Homo sapiens: one gene and its partner. The protein of the gene in region 2 purifies or fractionates together with the protein of the main gene of each other region. This does not show direct contact. Each region holds a gene or a part of one and is shown on either strand. Other genes may lie near its edges.

What was found. The genes of interacting proteins can lie anywhere in the genome.
Region 1: the proteins of KLHL29 (region 2) and ZBTB10 purify together in Homo sapiens (affinity purification with mass spectrometry; 2 studies listed by BioGRID and IntAct, with this or other methods). This does not show direct contact.

Annotation. Positions count from the first base shown.
Region 1 is NC_000008.11:80,517,217-80,524,245, reverse strand, and holds part of ZBTB10 (zinc finger and BTB domain-containing protein 10), read right to left. Parts: intron 5,844-7,029; coding exon 5,667-5,843; intron 5,465-5,666; coding exon 5,292-5,464; intron 5,024-5,291; coding exon 4,718-5,023; 3' UTR 1-4,717. UniProt on the Homo sapiens protein: May be involved in transcriptional regulation.
Region 2 is NC_000002.12:23,703,171-23,709,127, forward strand, and holds the end of KLHL29 (kelch-like protein 29), read left to right. Parts: intron 1-15; coding exon 16-209; intron 210-548; coding exon 549-693; intron 694-3,310; coding exon 3,311-3,494; 3' UTR 3,495-5,436; downstream 5,437-5,957.

The DNA.
Region 1 (7,029 bases), on a different chromosome or scaffold from region 2:
ACAAATAAACAAAAAACCCTTATAGTATTCCATAATTCAAACTTGTAAGCCTTAAGTACAAAGATATCTGAATTATACATAAGTCAAAGTTCATTAAGGTGTTCCCCTTACCCCAATTAGTCTAAATTAGTACACTTGCAAAGAAATCTGAATTAAATGTCAGTCAATAAAATTCACAAAGCCAGAAGCAGTTTAGTGCTCACAAGTTTATATTTTTAGGTTTGAATAAAGATTCTTGTGTATTTTCTAAATACACAGACAAAACAGTTCCGGAAGTTTACATACATGTCTTAGGACACTTATATTAGGTAGGTAATTTACATTTTAAAAAGTTGGTCTTCGTAAAAGATCTTCCCAAAGAGCTTTTACAAACAGCAGGCGGAAGTGTTCTTTTGTTTACAGTGTTCAAAATGCCAATGCTCCCACTAAATAATGGCCTCAACCATCTCTCCTCAACCCAAAATATTGTTCTCAATAGCTAGTGTACTCCAAATTTAAGTACCCAATGTCATAAAATTTAGGGCTAGAAAACATCTTTTGAAGTGTGCTTATCCCTAACACATTTTAAACTATCTAGAATTCTTTAACTTCAGTTGAAAGCAGAGATACAGCAGGAAAAAAAAAAAAACTTTCCATTTTAAGTCCTAAAGTGACTAAACACCTGTTAGTTCTAAGTGTGGATATTATGTACCATAGTTAAGTTTAAGGATCTGGGTGACTGAACGGCACAAAAACTGGGGTTTCTATCTAGTTCTTCAGATAAAAACCATTCTTTTATAAAATTAAAATGCCACAGCCAGTTAAGAGCATGTGCTACACTGATGTGTCTTAATATAGTCAAAGTGACAAAACAACTGCTTTATGAAGAAAGAGTAGTAAGGAAATTTATTGGGGGGAGGAAAGACACTCAAAATTCTAAACACAGCTGTCTTATAGGAAAAATATAATCCATAGACTCCATTAAGAGCTGAAATTCTACAAGAGTTGTTTAATGAGGCAGCAATAGAGCCTCCCTGAAAGAGTATGGGCTTCAGAATCAGACGTGGTCAAATTCGAGCTCTGTCACAGCTGTGTTAAATTAGCCAAGTTTCTGAATTTCTCTGAGCCTTTCCTCATCTATAAAATGGAGACAATTAGCACCTACCTTATAGAGGATTAAGGTAAAATCATGTATACAGCACAACGGCAAGTGTGGGCACTCAAAAAAAAAATTGGTAGTTTTTTTAATCGTTTTTCAGAAAAATGAATCTAAACCCTTCATGCTATGTTCAGAAAATCCTAAAAAATATAAATAAAGCTTACTAAAGTTTTAAAAATTAAGATTTTTAAACCTATTTTCCATCACACTTTCCCCCGTATGATACTACTACAGTGATATTCAGGCCGTTTACACCATTTTGTATTAATATAAATGCCCAAGTCCTAATCCTTTCATTTCCTATTTTCTCCTTCCTTTCCCCCATCTTTTCTTATTTCTTTTTCCTCTTGGTTCTTATCTATTATTAAACAACTTTAAGATGTGTTATGCACCTATTATGTACCAGTGTTCTAAGCACTTTACATGAATTAACGCATTTAGCTCACTCTTCTCCATTAGGATAGCTGTACCTAACCCAGCTAGTGTGTTTTCCCCAATTTCAAAGCTACTCATTACTGTTCAGTTTCCCTTTCCTATAACGTTTCTTCTTTTTTAAACTCTTAATTGCTAGTGTGCTAAATTTAGCAAAATATCTAGTAAATAAGAAAAATGAACAGGGGTCCATATGGAAGTATCTGTCTCTGAGAACTCTAATAATGCACAATCTTGATTTATGAGACGGTCTGTAACTACAGAGTGAATATGAAAGAAAGTTTATACTCTTCCCCTTCATTAAAAGCTCTAAAATACTTTTTCATTTAAAATATAAATTACAAGAGACAACTTCGCCAAATGTGTAACATAATTCTGCCAGAGTTCCACAGACAAAATTATGAGTATTTCATTGTTACCTCTGAGACCAATCATAAGTTCTTAGTATCTATCAACTTCCTGAAATTTTACTGTAAGTCAGAAAAAGAATACACTTAAAAAAATAGAAATGTCCAGTAGTATACCTTAGTACTAAAACTATTTTTTTAAAAGATCTAGATGGGAAAAGGCAGTCCCTCGAGATCATGAAACAAAATAAGTTAGGCAGTCAGCAAGTAGAAAAATCTGTCAATTCTGTTTCCGGTAAAATGTTTACTTCAAAGAAATTTTTATATAGGCTGAGGCTAATATATTCAAGAGTATAAACACTTTTCCTTTGGATTACCTAAAAACAAACTTTTAAAGTATCATATTTCAATTGACTAAAAATATAGCCAAATCTGTCACAACACAACATAAAGTAATGGACAATTATAGAATATTTTAAATTAACAGTAACAAGCCATCTACATCAAACCTTATTTCCAACTAAAACCAAACAAAAGCACAACAATCCCGTAGTGTACCAAGTGTGTATTTCAATTTACTGTATGCAATCTAACAAAAATTTGGTCATAATTTACCAGATATACATAAATGATTTAAGTAGTAAAAGAAAATTCAGCTTCAAGAGAGTAAGTTCATATCTTGAGGAAAAGTAAAAGTACATTAAGAATGTAAAGCCAAGTCCAGTTTCTATGCAATAAGTGAACTGTAGTCTAATAAAGCAGATTTAGGTGATTTTTAGATATATATCTTTGTTCTTTAATATATATTTATATATAGACAGATCTACCAATTGTAAACTAGTTTATTTAAAGGAAGGGGATAAATGGGATGAAAGAAATCTTTATACTATACTTACATATTCACAAAGAACATTTTACGTTTAAAATACTTTTTCATTCATAGTATCTTTGCCCAACTAATTTCTACCAGAAATACATTTTACTCATTTGTCTAGAACATTAAGAAGTACTCATCTGTTTTAAACAAAAATCAAACCGAAACTATTCTTATCTGTCAGGTTTACAGTTATGTAGAAACTACAATATAGATGACAAAAGATGCATCTAACCATGTAACTGTAATTTATCTTTGATTTATCCAAGCAGAAACATCATTGTCTAACAATAAACCATTATTCTACTGAAATCAGAGACAATGATAAAGCTTGTCTCTTAAAAAACATCAACTTTTCAACTTTGATCAGATGGAGCACCAAAGGGATTATATCTGTCAAAGCATCTTTGCAATTTTTTCCACATAACTAGCATAATTTAGTTACCTGATATAAAATAGGAAAATATACTCAATTTTTATTTAAAAGAAAGCTGAAAATATGACATCCCTCAATCTTATATAATATACAATATGCTAATAAATGCCATACATGTTAACAATACGTGAAATGCTGCTGAGAGTTCCACAATCAGCTAATTCATGTCACCAGGCTAAGTAAATCTGACAATTTCACCTCAATATGTCACCCTTTGTACCCTGAAGAATTTATAGAATAATAAAGCTTCTCAGAATTTTATTTGTAAGATTTTTGAGACTGTTGAATCATGGTGACTACTAGAAAGACTGTATCAAGGTGTAGTGACTTCAAGGACAGAAAAAAATAAATTAAGTATTGATCATAATTTCAAAACAATCAATATCCCGCTAAGTATGAAACAAAAGAGAATGCACATTTTGTGTTAATTTTCATGATAAAAGGGACACGGGTAAAAACCTGATATTTCACTTATATTGCATAACAAGCTAACCAAACTGGACATGGTGGATAAATTATAAAACAAATCATTTTACTTATTTCTATGATTTTTCTTTCAATTAGGTCTTTCAAATAGGACTGAGGTATAGTACACTGGCAAAAATAAAGAGGCAAACAAGAATAGTGCCAAAGTAACAGATACCCAAAACCAAATACCATGTCAGAAAATATCATATAGTAACCATTTATCAGATTAGAGCAGCAGAAGAAAGTTACTTCTAAATCATAATCATTTTAGTGGTATTTGTCAACTTCGCCACGGTAACTTCATAACATCATTCTTCATTTGTGAAGTAGTAAAATTCATGTCAAAAAGGAAGAGGGGAATGGAGGAAGTCAGTTAGTTCATTCCAATAAATTACCTCTCCAGTTCTTATAAACATGCCCATCAGCACAAAATCGAGAAATAATACCTAAGACTAGAAGAGACTTGGTTTAAGTTATGAAGCAAATTAAATGGAAAAATACAAGAAAATAGAACCAATGGGGTTGAAAAAGCCCCTCACTGAAAATCTGTATTAAAAAAAATAAAATTAATAAAAATAAAAATAGAAACAAAACTCTACTAGTACAAACTAGCCTGAGTGGTTTGATGGACAGAGTGATTGGGTCAATTGTCACTGTACTTCCATAAACGGATTTTCTCCATTCATGTTAAAGTAGCACATGAATGTAAGCTCTTTAAGGACTATTTTCATAGGACCCAAATAGTTACTGTATATCCTATAAATAAAAAATATTTTACTTTGATAACTGACTGAGTATGTGGGGACTCCATGTAATCCAACCACATGGTTGTTTGCTGTATAGTCCTGTGCAAATATAAAAAAAAATTTTTTTTGCTATAAGGCTTTGACCCTACAGTTTTCACAGCAACATAACTACTATCCAGCATGTACCATATTTTGCAAGCCTTCAAGTTCAACAATCCAAATTGTCGATTCATATTAGGTCCAAATGCAGCATCCTTGAGGAGTATAGTAGGTCAGTTAATCATCTAGAGACATACAAACTTCTCCTGATTCATCCCATCGAGAGGGATCATTCTGATCTTCTCCATCATCAACTAGCTCTTCATCAGCTTCTCCTACTTCATTCTCCTCGTATTCTTCATCCCGAGGGAATTCTGTATCCTGTCCCTGATCTACACCTTCTTGCCCTCCTGGCTGTGATTTATCTGCACAGTCTACACAAACACCATAACGTCGAGATCCATGTCTTATTCCAACACTGGCTGCTAACATGAAGATCTTCTTACACACCATACATTTGTATTTTTTATCCTTTTTATGCACCTAATTGGAGGGGGAAAAAATCCAATATAAGGATATTATATATAATAGAATGCATTTGAACCACTCAAATTAAACCACACATTTAATAGTGAGTGAATACACCAGTTTCTCTGTAAAAAGCTCACTATCAGTTCATAAAGTCAAACTGTTTAAAGCAATTTAGGAGACAATCTTCCTTAAATTCACAATTAACTGTTTAAATCCCTTTAAACTTCACTGACATAAATATAGTTTATCTCAAAGATCAGCTGTATTTAAAGTTACTTACCAGGGAATGTCTTTTTACATGTTCTCTTCGAGTAAACAGTTTTCCACAAATATCACAGCTAAATGATCTCACTCCTGTGTGAATGAGCAAGTGCCTTTTTAGTGTTCGTCTGTATTTGGCTACATAGCTACAATGAGGGCATTTTAACTTGTTCATGATTAGAGATGATTCACCTATGAGAATTAAAAAAAGAGAAAGTGCTTATTACACATTAAACAGAAAACTTGCTATCAAAACTTCTTATCTCTATCTCTGAGAACAGCAATTATGTGGAGCTACTGCTACTTGGTTTTTAAAAAATGCAGAACATGAAAGCTTTTAATTGTTAACAATTATTTAATTAATTCTGTATTTGTTTAGTTGACTAATACTTGCCATTTTCCCAGGTTTCTTGTTTTGGCCAAGATTCTGGCAATAATCCATACTTGAAATCATTTGAAGCACCTGGTATCAATCCATACTTGAAATCATTTGAAGTACCTGGTATCAATCCATACTTGAAATCATTTGAAGGACCAGGCATCAAACCATACTTGAAATCATGTGAAGTACCTAGTACAAGTAAAAATTCTGAATTAATAATGGTAATAAAGATCTGTCTCTCATCAGAGTCAGAAAACAGAAATTATATTTATATCCTACAGGCATTATGATAGAATTTCATAGTATGAGTTAAATAAAACTGTATTTTAGTCTAAAATTGAGATGTCTTCCTACTTTATTATCACAATTAAACAAAATACCATTCAACTATAGTAGAAGAAATTCAGTTAAAAAAATTAATCATGGGCCAGGCACAGTGGCTCATGCATATAATCCCAGCACTTTGCGAGGCTGAGGCAGAAGGATCACTTGAGCCCAGGAGTTTGCAACCAGCCTGGGCAACATGGAGAAACTCCATCTCCATCTCTACAAAAAAATTTTAAAAATTAGCTGGGCATGGTGGTGTGTGCCTGCAGTCCCAGCTACTGGGGAAGATCATTTGAGCCCGGGAGTTGCAGTGATTCAAGATTGCGCCACTGCACTCCAGCCAGGGCGACACAGTGGGATCATGTCTCAAAAAAAAAAAAAAAAAAAAAAAAAGGTGGCGGGCGGGAGAAAAAAACATGAATATCATTTAATTGTGCAGACGCCACAAGAAATTACCCTTTTAAAGGATGGGTATATTCAAACCAGAACTCCTAATAGTTGCTTTTTCTAACTACTCTATCACTTAAGATTTTATCACCCTAAAGCCCAGCTATCAAATGGGATATTCTCCTTATTACGAATCCAGGACAGGCACATAATTTTAAGATTAATTGGTACAGAAAAATAGACTAAGAATAAAGAATATATATAGGATAATTAAAAATGTAAAGTTCTATTACTAGATCCTTGTTTCAGACATATTAGGGCAAGGTAACTGAATGCTCTCAGGGTTCCCTGAAATTTCTTTCTAACTCCATCCTTAAATAAAATAACGTGCAGAAGATAGAATCAAAATAGAATAATACATGTGCCTAAGGATCTTCAGATTAGCAAGGACAGGAATTATATCCACTGGATTTAATTCCATCTTTAATGTAATTCCTTGGACCAGGAACCTTTTGGCAATAGGAATATATATCCAGAATCTTCCACAACTATTGCCACCCTGATCCAATCAATCATGAGCTCTAGCCCCTGGACTGTCTTCAGTAGCCACCAAAAACTTGTCTCCCTACTTCCACTGTTGCCTTCCTAGAGTCTGTTCTCA
Region 2 (5,957 bases):
TCTCCTCTCCTGCAGGTACGACACCATCACCAACCAATGGGAGGCGGTGGCCCCTCTGCCCAAGGCAGTACACTCTGCTGCAGCCACAGTGTGTGGCGGCAAGATCTACGTGTTTGGTGGGGTGAACGAGGCAGGCCGAGCTGCCGGCGTCCTCCAGTCTTACGTTCCTCAGACCAACACGTGGAGCTTCATCGAGTCCCCAATGATTGGTGAGAACCAGCGGTGTCCTCAGCCCAGGGCCAGGGTCGCATCCCTGCCTTGCTGATTTGTTCAGTATCCCATGCCCAGAAGTCAGGCTAAGCCCAACAGCTCTGCAGACCCAGATCTAGAGGGTGGCAGGAGTTGCCGAGCCCCCAGCTCAGGTGTCTGGAGAGGGGCAAGTGAGTCAAGGCTCCAGGTTCCCCTAGGCCCCGGACCCATCCCCAGGCCAATCAGTCACTTGTTGGAAGTCTTTCGAGCTTCCTTCCCTGGAGGGTCTTCTGGGAAAGAAAAGGAGAGGGAAGTCCAAGACAAGCTGCCGTGACCTGCCTGCTCTGCTCTCCTCACAGACAACAAGTATGCCCCCGCTGTCACGCTCAATGGCTTCGTTTTCATCCTGGGCGGGGCTTATGCCAGAGCTACCACCATCTACGACCCTGAGAAAGGAAACATTAAGGCGGGCCCAAACATGAACCACTCTCGCCAGTTCTGCAGGTGAGAGGCTGCGGCGCCTTGACTAGGGCTGGGACGGAGGAGTGGGAGGAGGAGGGGTGTGACCACAATGATTTCCTGCCATCAGTGACCATAGCAATTCCCAGGCCCAGAGCAGTGGCCCTCCCCCTCCAACCACAGGAGTGGGCATTAGCCCAGACCAGTAGGGTGGAGCCCACGGCAGCCTCTGGTCCAGGAGCCCAACCCCGGGGCTCCAGCTGGCCCCAGCTCCAGCAGAAATGAACCATTTCCTGAAGGCATCAAGGCTACCCTGCTCTCAGTGAGAGGTGAGGTCAGCTTCCCCCAGGACCACCTGCCCCATCACAGACAGAAGGCAGTGCCAGGCCAGAGCTGTGTGATGCCCTACAGGGACAAGTGACTTCTTGGGGGAATGCTCTGAGGACATGAACGATCCTGATGGCTTTGGGAGCTGTGCTCAGAGTCCCAAAGGCTGACTGGGCAAAAGCACACACAAACCCACCCCTGCAGGCAGAGAAGGTAGAGGGCTGAGTGTGGCTCGGTCCCCAGGCTTTCTGGCCCTGTGGCAGCGAGACACCAGTCCCTGCTCTTCCAGCCCCATCCTTTCCTGGACTAAGAGGAACAAGGAATAAAAAGGGGCCCCAAGGCCAGGTGCAGTGGCTCACACCTGTAATCCCAGCACTTTGGGAGGCCGAGGCGGATGGATCAGTTGAGATCAGGAGTTCAAGACCAGCTTGGCCAACATGGTAAAACCCCGACTCTACTAAAAATACAAAAATTTGCCAGGCGTGGTGGCATGTGCCTGTAATCCCAGCTTCTCAGGAAGCTGAGGCAGGAGAATCGCTTGAACCCGGGAGGCGGAGGTTGCAGTGAGCCGAGATCGCGCCACGGCACTCCAGCCTGGGTGACAGGAAAAGACTCCGTCTCACAAAAAAGAAGGGGCCTCAGAAACCTCATTGTCAGGACTCCCATAGCAGATGCTTCCTGAAGACATCTTGTGCCTATGTAGAGGTAACTGCAGAATCTTCAGTGTGGGAATAGCATGAAGTACTTAGAGTGCCCATTGTTTGTGTAGCATAGCTAGAAAAGATATAACCTCCTACTAGCATGTCAGTGACCTTGGACATATCCCTTCACCTCTCTGAGGAAGTTCTATCTGTGAAACAGGCGGTTGGACCAGACAACTGCTAAGCTCCTGTTGGACTGAGATTTCACAATTCTTGAGCCATACTTCCATGTCATGTACCCTAATGGTGGCAGTGTGCAGAGCACAGTCTGACTACCCCGTCCACTGATGCAGACAACTGGAGCATTGCGCTCCACTTGGGAGGATGCTCGCACCTTCTCTGAGACTAGAAGTAAATGGGAAAGGGCCAGGCACAGTGGCTCACGCCTGTAATCCCAGCACTTTGGGAGGCTGAGGTGAATGGATCACGAGGTCAGGAGTTCAAGACCAGCCTGACCAACATGGTGAAACCCCGTCTCTACTAAAAATACAAAAATTAGCCAGGTGTGGTGGCAGGCGCCTGTAATCCCAGCTAACTCAGGAGGCTGAGGCAGGAGAATTGCTTGAACCTGGGAGGCGGAGGTTGCAGTGAGCTGAGATCACACCACTGCACTCCAGCCTGGTGACAGAGTATGACTCCGTCTCAAAAAAAAAAAAAGAATGGGAAAGACTTAACGGCAAATGGCAGAGTTAAGCTGGGTCTTGCAAGATAATCAGGTAATAGGTGCACCACAGAAGGAAAATATGAGGGCCCCAGATGGCATGAACTAAGGGAGAGAAGACTGGAAGCTTCAGGGTCTGGTAAGAAGTCCAGACTGATGTGTTCTCTTTAAGAGATTTCAGAAACGGGTGGAGCCTTTGAAAAGGTATGTGTCCAATGTCAGGGAATAGCCAGGAAGAAATGGCCATTAGCTGAAATGAAAGAGTGTCAGGGCTAGAAACAAGGATGTGGACGTCAGTGCAAAGAAGTAGCTGAAATGCATTAAGGGAGTCAGTGCAGAGAGGGGCCAGATGCTGAGCCCTCATGATGAGAGGAGCTGACTGAGACAACAGGAGCAAGCCAGTGAGTGTCACACAGGGAAGGGGTCCAGGCACAGCCATCGGTCACCCTGCAGAGCATGCCCGGCCCTTGCAATCCTGGGTGGGCAGCAGCACCAGGTCACACAGAAGCACCTTGGCAGGTGGAGCTCCCAGTCAAGTGGCTGACATTCAATTCCAGCTGAGCTCCTTATTATTCTCTCTCGTCATTCTTGTGAGTCATGTTCCCAATTTGATTTGAGCAGTAGGAAGGCTGCGTGTGCCACACAAGAGCCTCCAGAAAGCCTCAGTGACCTGAGCTGAGTGCCCGCACAGAGATCTTTCGTCTCCTAGCCATGGTTAGTCACTCTGGCGGGGCAGGGAGGGAGCGCCTTCTGCCGCTCGCAGGGTGGCATAGCACGGCTTCCTGACTGGCCCTGGAGGACAGGTGTTTTTCTTATGCCAGCCCAGGTTAGAGGGCAAAGAAGGGCAGCAAGATCCCAGATGCCTTCTGCAAAAGGCACAGGCAGCCTACAACAGGACACGACGTTGAGAACCTATCTCCAGGGCCAAGTTGGAAGTGAAATGCCTAACTCTGTCCCCGCTTTCCCCCAACAGTGCTGTGGTGCTTGATGGCAAGATTTATGCAACTGGAGGTATTGTCAGCAGTGAAGGGCCCGCGCTGGGCAACATGGAGGCCTACGAGCCCACAACCAACACATGGACCCTCCTCCCCCACATGCCCTGCCCTGTGTTCAGACACGGCTGCGTCGTGATAAAGAAATATATTCAAAGCGGCTGACATCAGCAGAAAGCCCACGATAAGACTGTGGACAAGTCTGGTGAGGCAAGTGCCACGCAATGATAATTTTCCAGCGACACCAACAAGAGGCCAACAAAACACAATCAAGGAACTCACTGCGCTCAACATGTTGAATATTCTCTACATTGAATGTAGAAAATCATCCTCGCCTTTGGATGAAACGGAGGCACCGCGCTTGGAGCCGCAGGAACCACGATCCCGCCATGGGGCTGGCTGCCTCCTGAACAGGGGCGCTCGCTCTGCCAGGTGCAATAGAGTTTCACGTATTTTTCAACTGGGAGAGAGAAGCTGTTTTTTCCTTCCTGCAGAGCAAGCTTGATCCCTAAACAACCATAGATCAGTTATCTTATGACAACATTAGGCATCAGGCTCTCTTGGAATAAGATCAAAGTGTCCTTATCACTTTGATTCCTACTTTTGTTTTTTAACCGATCTACACTTTCAGTGGCCGACAGAAAACGAGGGACAATACTGTGCATCACAAGGCCTAGGAGGCTGCTGGTCCCCACTGGGGCTGAAGAGAAGCCCAGCTGCCCACGCGGAGCCAGGGGTGGCAGCTGTGGGACAGCCGGGGAGCAGGGACAGCGGTCTGTCCTTCACAGGTTTTTCTACTGTGTTTTTGCTGGAGAAGGACAGTGATTGCGCTAGCTTTCTCTTACCCGGTATGAATTATTTAGATTTCTGAGGCATTTTCTTGATAAACAAAAGGCTATTTTTAAGTACTGAGAGGAGGAGCAGGCCACAAGAGGGATAATGTTGTGGGAATTCCCAAAGCTCTTTGTAGGTAGTGCCAGAGGGGGGCTTTTGCTCTCATTTTTCTATGTGCAGAATAGAGGATCTCTCCTGGGGTGGGCGATGCCCCCATTTTATTTTTAGAAAAAGTAACTCCCAGACAGCCCCATAAAAGCTGTGCCCAAGGAAGAAGAGTCTGCTCTAGAAGGAGCCCGGTTCTGGCTCAGGACACCGGCCCAGCTCCCTCCATGAGGTCAAGCTGAGGACCAGGCCAGTGGGAAGGGAAGGAGGGAGAATTAGCGTCTATAAAGCACAGGAGACTATTTTTGATATTCATAGCTATATATTAAGGCACCTGCCACAAGAGCTCTCAGGATGGGGACAGCCTTCTTAGTGGAGCCATGGCAGCAAGGCCTGAGGGCATGAACAGAACCACTCTTCTTGTCACATACGAACCTGAGAAAAGGGAAGCCAGGAGGGAGGTCACACCATGGCTCAAAAGGGAAAGGCCTTCCCACTTGTCCTTAGCCCCTCAAACCTCACACGGTCAACAGTTTCCATTCCAGGGCAGGAGAATGCTGCCGCCACTGCGCTGTTGAGTTGAAGTTGGTACCAAATACACATTTACCACTTTTATATCTGGGAAGTCAACTTGCCATCGTTTCATGATAACAACCATTTATAAGAGAAAAAGACAGGACACGCTTTCCATCGTTCAGTATTTGATGACACAAAATTCCAGTTCTAACGTTGGGCATCAACTTCTAGCACTACGAGTGTGGCTCCCACTTGGACAAGATACCGAGCTTCGTTATGCAGTTTTTAATATTATTTATTATTTTAAAAAGTAATAAGCACAAAACTACATACATTGTATGTCATTTAAAGTATTTATGTCAAACAGGGTGCAAGTGTGAACCCAAGGACTGGAGCACAAATTCCTAACTGCCTGGGGCAGGGCTAATGTTAGCATTGGTGTGCGTCTGCCTCCAAAGGAGGTTCTAGTTGTCAGCGAGACTCAACACAGATGACATTGAAATTCGTTTCTCTCCTCATCTATCACACTGGAGCAAAACTGGCTATTTCTGTGAATGATATAAAACAGGGTTCTCTGTAATGGTATTGTACATAGTATATGTTTACTGTTAAGTTCTTGTTATATTATAATAAATATATTTATAGATCTAGACTTGGAAGCCAACGTAATCTTTGTGTGCCATCGTCCTGCCACAGGGATGCAAAACCTGTTCTACCCCTCATACATCAGCTGTATGGGTTCTCTTATAGACTTTAGTGCAGAACTTAATGATTAGAAAGGATGGGACTCCATATTGAGGGAAGGTTTAGAGTTGAAAAGCCAAGAAGACAATTGAAGGTAAAAGTTGAAAGGGACTTGCAAACACGCTGGCACTGGCTCTGAGGCTCTTCCTTTCATTGAAGTGCTCTTCTTATTACACTTGTGCAACTGAAAGCTTCAAAGCTGTTAGCTTCCCACTGGTATCACTGCTGTGCCAGGGACCCACTTAGAGCCACATGGCAAGTCCAGCTCATGAGCCTAAGAGGAGACACAACACACTTTCTCCAGGAAGAGGAATACAGGGTGATTTCTTTTCTTTTCTTTTCTTTTTTTCTTTTTTATTGAGATGGAGTTTCACTCTTGTTGCCCAGACTGGAGTGCAATGGCGCGATCTCAGGCTCACCACAACCTCC